2 separate regions of the Homo sapiens genome follow, and region 2 is linked to region 1. Evidence: fine-mapped expression QTL. A gene starts in region 1. The other region holds a variant in brackets. All regions are shown on one strand. Distances are from middle to middle. Region 1 holds the start of FBXL12 (F-box and leucine rich repeat protein 12). Region 2 overlaps OLFM2 (olfactomedin 2).

Region 1 (4,385 bases):
AACCATATCATGAACCAAGAGAGAAAGAAACATGTTTTAATGAATCTTCTCAGGCGGCTGAGGCAGGAAGATGGCTTGAGCCCAGGAGATGGAGGTTGCAGTATGTTATGATTTTGCCACTGCCTGGGTGACAGAGTGAGATCCATCTCAAAAAAATAAATTAGAAAAAGATAAACTGCAGAGCATAAATGTTATGGGCTACTTTTGACAGAGGAATCAAATCTTCCTTGCCAAATTTAGACCCGTGTGGGTCAGCAGAAATTGACTAGAAATAGTGGCCACCGAATGGTAACTCACAAGGGTAGCAGTTAAAGTTGGTAAAATTTTAAATGCACACAAAACCAATGGACGAATCAACTTTTCCTCGCAAAACCAACAACTAAGTTTCAACAACTGAGAAAAAGTTTCATATTATCAGGCCAGACACTGTGGCTCACACCTGTAATCCCAGCACTTTGGGAGACTGAGGTTGGGGGACAGCTTCAGTCCAGGAGTTCGAGACCATCCTGGGCAACATAGCAAGACTCTGTCCTTAAAAAAAGAACTTCAAAAGCAACTGTATTAAAGGGAGTTACAGATGGATATATACAGTAAAATTGTTTAAAAGTAGAACACTATCTAAATAGTAGAACAGCATTACCCGAAGTTCAGAAATACATTACTAACACTATAATTGTTTTTGGACACACACATATGAAGTAACGTAAAAGGAAGGGTGCAAATTCACTTTATAATAGCAATTATCTATGAAGACAGTTTCAAAAAGGGCAACAAATATATCTATAAATGTTTTGAGCCAGTTGCTGTGGCTCATGCCTGTAATCTGAACACTTTGGGAGGCTAAGTCGGGAGAATCACTTGAGCCCAGGAGTTCGAGACCAGCCTGGGCAGCATAGTGAGACTCCGTCTCTACAAAAAATAAAAAATTAGCAGGTGTAGTGGCGAGCGCCCGTGGTTCCAGCTACTCAGGAGGCTGATGCGAGAGGATCGCTTGAGCTTGGGAGGTCGAGGCTGCAATCGCACCACTGCACTCCAGCCTGAGCAGCAGAGCGAGACTCTGTCTCAAAAACAAAACAAAAACTTGATAACATAGTCATAAATTAGCATTTATCGAATGATAAATATGTGCCAGACTGTTCTAAGCCCTTTCCCTGCGTGATCTCAGTGAAGTCCCATAATAGCCCCGTGAGGCAGGTACTGTCCTTTATCCCCATTGCAGGGATGAGGAAATTGAGGCCCTGAGGTCGAAGAGGAGCTGGTAAGCGATGATGCCGAGATAGGCCCCGGATCGCCTGGCTCTAAATCCCCAGCCCGGGCCCCGACACACAGTCCCAGGGTGGGAGAGGTGGTCTTCGGGGTCCGGGCACCGCGACCGCGGCCCAGGCCCGCCCGGCCAGCTGCGCGTACCGTGTAGAGCGTCAGGTCGACATGTCGCCACAGCCACCGGTCGTCCACCAGCCTCTTCCAGCGGTGACAGACCCTGGGGGAGGGGACGCGCGGTTAGAACGACCCCAGCCCCGGGCCACATCGCATCTCCAGGTGCCAGCTGCGCCCTCCGCCCTGCCCTTCCCCCCGGAGGCGGGGCCGCACCTGGAGATGCGGATCCGGTCCCGTACCGGGAGGTAAGAGAAGATCTCGAGCAGGACCGAGTCCGGCAGTTCGACCAAAGTCGCCATGATCCCGCCGACACGCACTTCCGCTTCCGGTTAAAGAGACCCGAGGGGTCCTGGGGGCGCCGAGGCGGCTGACAGGGCGGCGGCCGCGACCTTCCCGTAGCCGGTCGAGAAATTTGACCTTCCTCTCGCTGGGAAGTGATTCGGTCCCAGGGCCGGACCAGCCGCGGATGGGGACCAGAAACCAGCCTGGAAAGCGTGGCTGAGGCAGTGAGAGGCTTGCGGGAGGTGGCTGAGGCGTGATTTGGCCGCGACTGGGAACTAAGACCAAGTCCAGAAGGCGGGGCTGGAGTGAGGCGAAGCTCGGAGGCGGGGCTAGAGACGAGGACCAAGTCCGGAAGGCGTGGCCGGGGTGGGGTGAGGATCGGAGGCGGGGCTAGAGACCAGGACCAAGTCCGGAAGGCGTGGCTGGGGTGGGGCGAGGATCGGAGGCGGGGCTAGAGACGGGGACCAAGTCCGGAAGGCGTGGCTGGGGAGGGGCGAGACCCGGGGACGGGGCTAGAGGCGAGGCCCAAGCCCGGAAGGCGTCGCTGGAGTTGGGCGAGGCTCAGGGGCGGAGCCAGAGAACGGAACCAAGTCCAGAAGGCGGGGCTGGGGCGCGGCTAGGGGGCGGGGCTAGAGACGAGGACCAAGTCCAGAAGGCGTGGCTGGGGTGGGGCGAGGATCAAGCCCGGAAGGCGCGGCTGGAGCGGGGCGAGGCCTAGGTGGGGCTGCAGACGAGAACCACGCCTTGGAGGCGTGGCTAGGGCGGGTAGAGGCTCGGACAACCGCTGGAAGGCGGGGCTGGGGCGGGGCGAGACCTTGGGGGCGGGGTTGACGACGAGGACCTAGCCGAGAGGTCGTGGTCTGGACGGAAACCAGGCTGCAGCAGGACCAGGCGCCAAGGGCGTGGCTGGGGAGCGATGGAGACGCTCGGAAGGTGGGGAGCGGGGGACGGAGACAGGGAGAAGACTACGCCATGAAGGCGTGGTTGAGGCGGGGCGAGGCCTGTGGGTCTGGCCCCGAGCGAATGGCTTGGTAGAGAGTCAGAGAACTCTATTTTTTTACTTAATGATGCTTCTTGATGTCTATGCACAAGGATAAATTTGTATTACTGGAATATCGTGGCCAAAGGACCTGTTGAATTTTTCACTTTCATTGATACTACAGATATTTTCTGAATTGGCAAGTCCACCAAGAAACTATAAAAATGTGTGTGTGCAATGGCTGCACACAGCAGCTTCCTTGGTAGTGTACGCAGCCTGTTGGTTGTATGGGTTGCTCTAAGGGACCTTGGAGACAGGCCTTTCCGATGGATGTTCATGTTTCTAACCTTGCACTACCACAATGTAGGCTCCAAACAGGCATGTGAGGTGCCTTTGGAAAGCCCCAGGGCACTGTGGCCAGGGTTGACATTGGCCAAGTTATCATGTCCATCCGCACCAAGCTGCAGAACAAGGAGCATGCGATTGAGGCCTTGCGCAGGGCCAAGTTCAAGTTTCCTGGCCGCCAGAAGATCTACATCTCAAAGAAGTGGGGCTTCACCAAGTTCAATGCTGATGAATTTGAAGACATGGTGGCTGAGAAGCGGCTCATCCCAGATGGCTGTGGGGTCAAGTACATCCCCAATCGTGGCCCTCTGGACAAGTGGCTGGCCCTGCACTCATGAGGGCTTCCAATGTGCTGCCCCCCCTATTAATACTCACCAATAAATTCTACTTCCTGTCCAAAAAAAAAAATGTGTGTGTGTGTGTGTGTGTGTGTGTGTGTATATATATATATATATATATATACACACACACACACACACGCACGCCTCCTGAAGCCAGGAGGCGGAGATTGCAGTGACCTGAGATCGCGCCACCACACTCCAGCCTGAGTGACAGAGCGAAACTCCGTCTCAAAAAAAAAAAAAAAGAATATGAAAGAGATTGTGGAGGTTGCAGTGAGCCCAGATCGCGCCACTGCACTCCAGCCTGTGCGACGGGTGCGAGACTCCATCTCAAAAAAAAAAAAAAATCATGTTACTGCAAAGGACATGATTTCATTATCTTTTTTTTTTTTTAAATTTGGGACAGGGTCTCTCTCTGTCACCCAGTCTGGAGTGCAGTGGCGAAATTATAGCTCACTGCAGCCTTAACCTCTGGGGCTCAAGTGATCCGATCCTTCCACCTCAGTCTCCCGAGTAGCTGGGACTGTAGGCACATGCCAACACGCCCGGCTAATTTTTGTTTTGTTTTTTGAGATGAAGTCTTGCTGCATCACCCAGGCTGGAGTGCAGTGGCACAATCTCGGCTCACTGCAACCTCCGCCTCCCAGGTTCAAGTGATTCTCCTGCCTCAGCCTCCCGAGTAGCTGGGACTACAGGCGCCCGCCACCATGTCCGGCTAATTTTTATGTTTTTAGTAGAGATCAGGTTTCACTATATTGGCCAGGCTGGTCTCAAACTTCTGACCTCAGGTGATCCACCTGCCTCAGCTTCCCAGAATGCTGGGATTACAGGTGTGAGCCACTGCGCCCGGCTAATTTTTGTATTTTTTTCTAGAGCCGGGGTTTTGCCATGTTGCTCAGGCTGGTCTTGAACTCCTGGGCTCAAGTTCTTCCTGCCTCAGCCTCCCAAAGTACTAGGATTACAGGCGTGAGCCACCACGCCCAGCTGATTGCATTTTTTTTATGGCTGCATTACGTGTGTCTTCTTGGCTTGTTGCCCTCCTATATCAGACTGAATTCTGG
Region 2 (4,385 bases), 67 kb after region 1:
TTGAGCCCAGGAGTTCAAGACCAGCCTGGGTAACATAGTGAGACCTCCGTCTCTAACAAAAATACATAGATTAGCCAGGCATGGTGGTGCGCACCTGTAGTCCCAGCTACTTGGGAGGCTGAAAGAGGAGGATCACCTGAGCCCAGGGAGGTTGAGGCTGCAATGAGCTGTGATCATGCCACTGCACTCCAGCCTGGGTGACAGAGTGAGACCCTGTCTCAAAAATTAAAAAAAAAAAAAAAAAAAGCCCAGGCACAGTGGCTCAGGACTGTAATCCCAGCACTTTGGGAGGCTGAGGCAGGCGGATCACAAGGTCAGGAGTTCGAAACCAGCCTGGCCAACATGGTGAAATCCCATCTCTACCAAAAATATATAAAATTAGCCGGGTGTGGTGGCAGGTGCCTGTAGTCCCAGCTACTCGGGAGGCTGATGCAGGAGAATCGCTTGAACCTGGGAGGTGGAGGTTGCACTGAGCCGAGATTGTGCCAGTGCACTCCAGCCCCAGGTCTATGGGACTGTAGAGATGCTGGTGTTTCTACAGCTAGGACTCGCCAGTTCTAGGCATTCTTCAGAGCTCACAGCAAACACCACCACCTCCAGGAAGCCTTCTCCATCATCTAAGATAGGTCTGTGTTCCTTCCTGTGCACATCTCCACAGCTCCCTGCCCCTTCCCTCCACAAAGTTCTTATATTTTATTCTTTTCCTTGCATGGTGGGTGTCTGCATGCCCCATTAGGATGTGAGCTCCAAAAGGGCAGGGCTGAGTCTGTCTTCTTCCATGCTATGGTCCCAACACCAGCAGATGCTGGAGACAATGGACAGGCATCAAGATATGAATGAATGAATGAATGCTTCCTGTACACTCCAAGTTTTCCATGTGACCCCTTCCTCCCCGACTCCCCAACACCCTCTGTCTGCTCTCTTCCTCCTTCCTCTCCCATCACAGGGTGGATACAGGGGCTCTGGGTTTTGAAGCGGTCATGGAGTCAAAGGTAGTTGAGTGTAGCTGTGAAGCACATGGACCCTGGAGGCCGACAACTTGAACTTCAAAACCCGGCTTCTCTTTCTAGCTGTGTGACCATGGGAAAGTGACTTAACCTCTCTGTGCCTCACTTTCCCCACCTGCAAAATGGGAGTGATAGTAGTGCCTTACTGTTGAGTGAGTGATTCTGACCCATTCCCAGACTGCAATTCCCAGACTGGGAGGCAGAGGGCTGAGTCTCCGGCAGTTAATGAATCCGGAAAAAATCTCAGCTGTGTCAGAGGAGCCCCAGTGCCAAGTTGGCCTGGTTTTCATCCCAAGAGAGCTGAGAACATGGTCTGGTGTCAGACATCCACGCTGTGATTGGCACAAATGCCTGGTGCTCCTATGACCCCCCTCGTTAGGGCTGGGGGAGTGTGGGAGATGCTCCTGGGGCTCTGCCCAGAGCTGCTGACTGCCTAGATGTACCCACCCTGCAGCTGCTGAGCACGGCGGCTCATTGCTAGCAGCTGTGATCTTCTCTGGACCTGCCCATGGCTTTTGGGAGCCACCACACCTTGGAGATGCTTGGGAGGTGTCACCTACTCCCAGGGGCAGCTAATGACTGATGCAGGGGTAAAAAGCCCACTCCTCTTCTCATGGTGAGATAACTCCACAGTGTCCCCCCACCCTTGTGGAGCAAGCCAAACCGGGACTTTACCTAGGATCTCATCTTTGCTCAATCTATTCTCTTCCAGGTCCTGCTCCCCTCACCCCTGCCCTGACTTTCAATTATGTGCTCCACAGTCAGGCACGGTGGCTCATGCCTGTAATCCCAGTACTTTGGGAGGCCGAGGCAGGAGGATCATTGAGCCCAGGAGTTTAAGACCAGGCTAGGCAACACAGCAAGACCCTGTCTCTACAAAAGATTAAAAAATTAACCAGGTGTGGTGGCGCACACCTGTAGTCCCAGCTACATGGGAGGCTGAGGTGGGAGGAT[T/C]GCTAGAGCCCAGAAGGTTGAGGCTGCAGTGAGCCATGATTGCACCCCTGCACTCCAGCCTGGGCAACGGAGCAAGACCCTGTCTCAAAAAAGAAAAAAAAAAAGTGCTGGAAACTTACGTCTCTAGTTCTGCTTCTCAGGAACCCAACCTAAGATGGGGGAAATGATGAACATTCAACCTAAGAGGGTTTTTGTTTTTGTTTTTGTTTTTTGAGACAGAGTTTCGCTCTTGTTGCCCAGGCTGGAGTACAATGGAGTGATCTTGGCTCACTGCAACCTCTGCCTTCCAGGTTCAAGTGATTCTCCTGCCCCATCCTCCCGAGTAGCTGGGATTACAGGCACACACCACCATGCCCAGCTAATTTTTTGTATTTTTAGTAGAAATGGGGTTTCACCATGTTGGCCAGGCTGGTCTCGAACTCCTGACCTCAGGTGATCTGCCCACCTTGGCCTCCCAACATGTTGGTATTACCGCACTGGGCCCTAAGAGGGTATTTATGTCAGTGTCCCTTCAGGTTCACATTCACACCCTGGCACCGAGTTCTGTCATTTCCACCTAAATAGGCAATCCATCCTGCACAACCCCGAAAGCAGCCCTCACTTCGAAATGCATCCTCGATTCTGCCCAGTCTGCCTCGTCCACATGTGCAGCCCCTGTCATGCTCCAGGACCATCCCTGATGCATTTTTCCGCACCTTACATTCATCTCGTTTCTTTTTCTTTCTTTCTTTTTTTTAAATCTCAGCTCACTGCAACCTCTGCCTCCTGGGTCCAAGCGACTCTCCTGCCTCAGCCTCCCAAGTAGCTGGGATTACAGGCATGTGCCACCACGCCTGGCTAATTTTGTATTTTTAGTGGAGACAAGGTTTCACCATGTTGGCCAGGCTGGTCTCAAACTCCTGACCTCAGGTGATCTGCCTGCCTCGGCCTCCCAGTGTTGGGATTACAGGTGTGAGCCACCGTGCCTGGCCTCATATTATTTCTTGTCTGTCGCTCTCATATGTACACTCCCCAAAGGGCAGGAATTTTTATCACTTTGTTCATTGCTGTGTCCTCAAAACAGAACAGTGCCTGGCACGCAGCAGGTGTTCAATAAACATCTCTGGCATTCAAGAATAAATCGTTTAAGTACATTCACTTGCAAACAGAATCCACCCAATTTTTCTTTTTCTTTCATTTTTTTTTTAGATGGAGTCTCGCTCTTGTTGCCCAGGCTGGAGTGCAGTGGTGTGATCTTGGCTTACAGCAACCTCCACCTCCCGGGTTAAAGCGATTCTCCTGCCTCAGCCTCCCGAGTAGCTGGGATTACAGGCACACACCACCACCCCCAGCTAATTTTTGTATTTTTAGTAGAGATGAGGTTTCTCCATGTTGGCCAGGCTGGTCTCAAACTCCTAACCTCAAGTGATCCACTTGCCTCGGCCTCCCAAAGTGTTGGGATTACAGGCATGAACCACCGCACCGCCCACCCTCTCTTTCTCTTATACCAATGCATCAGCCTTACCTTTAGAATCTACCCATTGCTCTACCCTCTTGATGGCCATCTCCATGGTCAAGCCCCTGGCATTGCTCACCTGAACCAGCAGAGTTCATCCCTTCCATGGTCTCCCAGTTCCCCCTACTTGCCCCCACAGTCTGCTTCCCCCACAGCAGCCAGAGAGCACCTGTGAACACATGAATCACACTGAGTCTCTCCCGTGCTGAGAACCCTCCATGGCTCCCATCTCCCCTGAGTTAAAAGCCCAAATCCTCAGCCAAGCGTGATTACACCTGTAATCCCAGTATTTTGAGGCCAGAGGATCACTTGAGCCCAGGAGTTTGAGACCAGCCTAGGCAACATAGTGAGACCCCATCTCTACAAAAAATTAAAAAATAAGCCGGAAGTGGTGGCATGTGTCTGTAGTCCCTTCTACACAGGAGGCTGAAGTGGGAGGATCGCTTGAGCCTGGGAGGTCGAGGCTGTGGTGAGCCATGATCTCTCCTTGTCTCAAAGTAGAGTTCTCCCCAAGGCACGTAACTCCTTCACAATCTGTCCCATCACCTCCCTGCCCTCACTTCCTTCCACTCTCCCTCTCACTCACTCTGTTCCAGCCACACTGTTCCTGCAAAACCCCAAACATATTTCTTCTATATCACCTCTTTGCACTGGCTATCCCCTCTGCCTGAAATGTCCTTCCACCTCCTTCAGACCCTTACTGAAATGTCATTGTCTCAAAAGACCCTCCCTGCTGGCCTGGCGCAGTGGCTCATGTCTGTAATCCCAGCACTTTGGGAGGCTGAGGTGGGTGGATCATTTGAGGTCGGGAGTTCGAGACCAGCCTGGCTAACATGGTGAAACCCCCGTCTCTACTAAAAATACAAAAATTAGCCGGGTGTGGTGGTGCGTGCCTGTAATCCCAGCTACTCGGGAGGCTGAGGCAGGAG

Evidence for each region. PIP is the estimated chance that this variant, and not a neighbour inherited with it, causes the effect. A credible set is the group of variants that fine-mapping cannot tell apart.
Region 2: its variant is the best candidate, but not a certain one, in a credible set for the expression of FBXL12 in cerebellum (GTEx, PIP 0.70).

Annotation. Positions count from the first base shown.
Region 1 is chr19:9,817,138-9,821,522 of GRCh38, forward strand. It overlaps FBXL12 (F-box and leucine rich repeat protein 12), which reads right to left and starts at 1,942. Exons shown (of 3, transcript NM_017703.3): 1 at 1,591-1,942; 2 at 1,408-1,480. The coding sequence starts at 1,676. It overlaps LOC124900430 (small nucleolar RNA SNORA70), which reads left to right and starts at 2,817; the gene lies at 2,817-2,957. It also overlaps the pseudogene RPL10P15. RefSeq lists silencers at 1,434-1,593, 2,044-2,133, 2,354-2,503.
Region 2 is chr19:9,884,050-9,888,434 of GRCh38, forward strand. All of the region lies in intron 1 of OLFM2 (olfactomedin 2), which reads right to left. Among named protein-coding and RNA genes, the nearest start is that of OLFM2, 50 kb to the right of the region's middle. The variant T/C (reference allele first, on the strand shown) is at 1,962.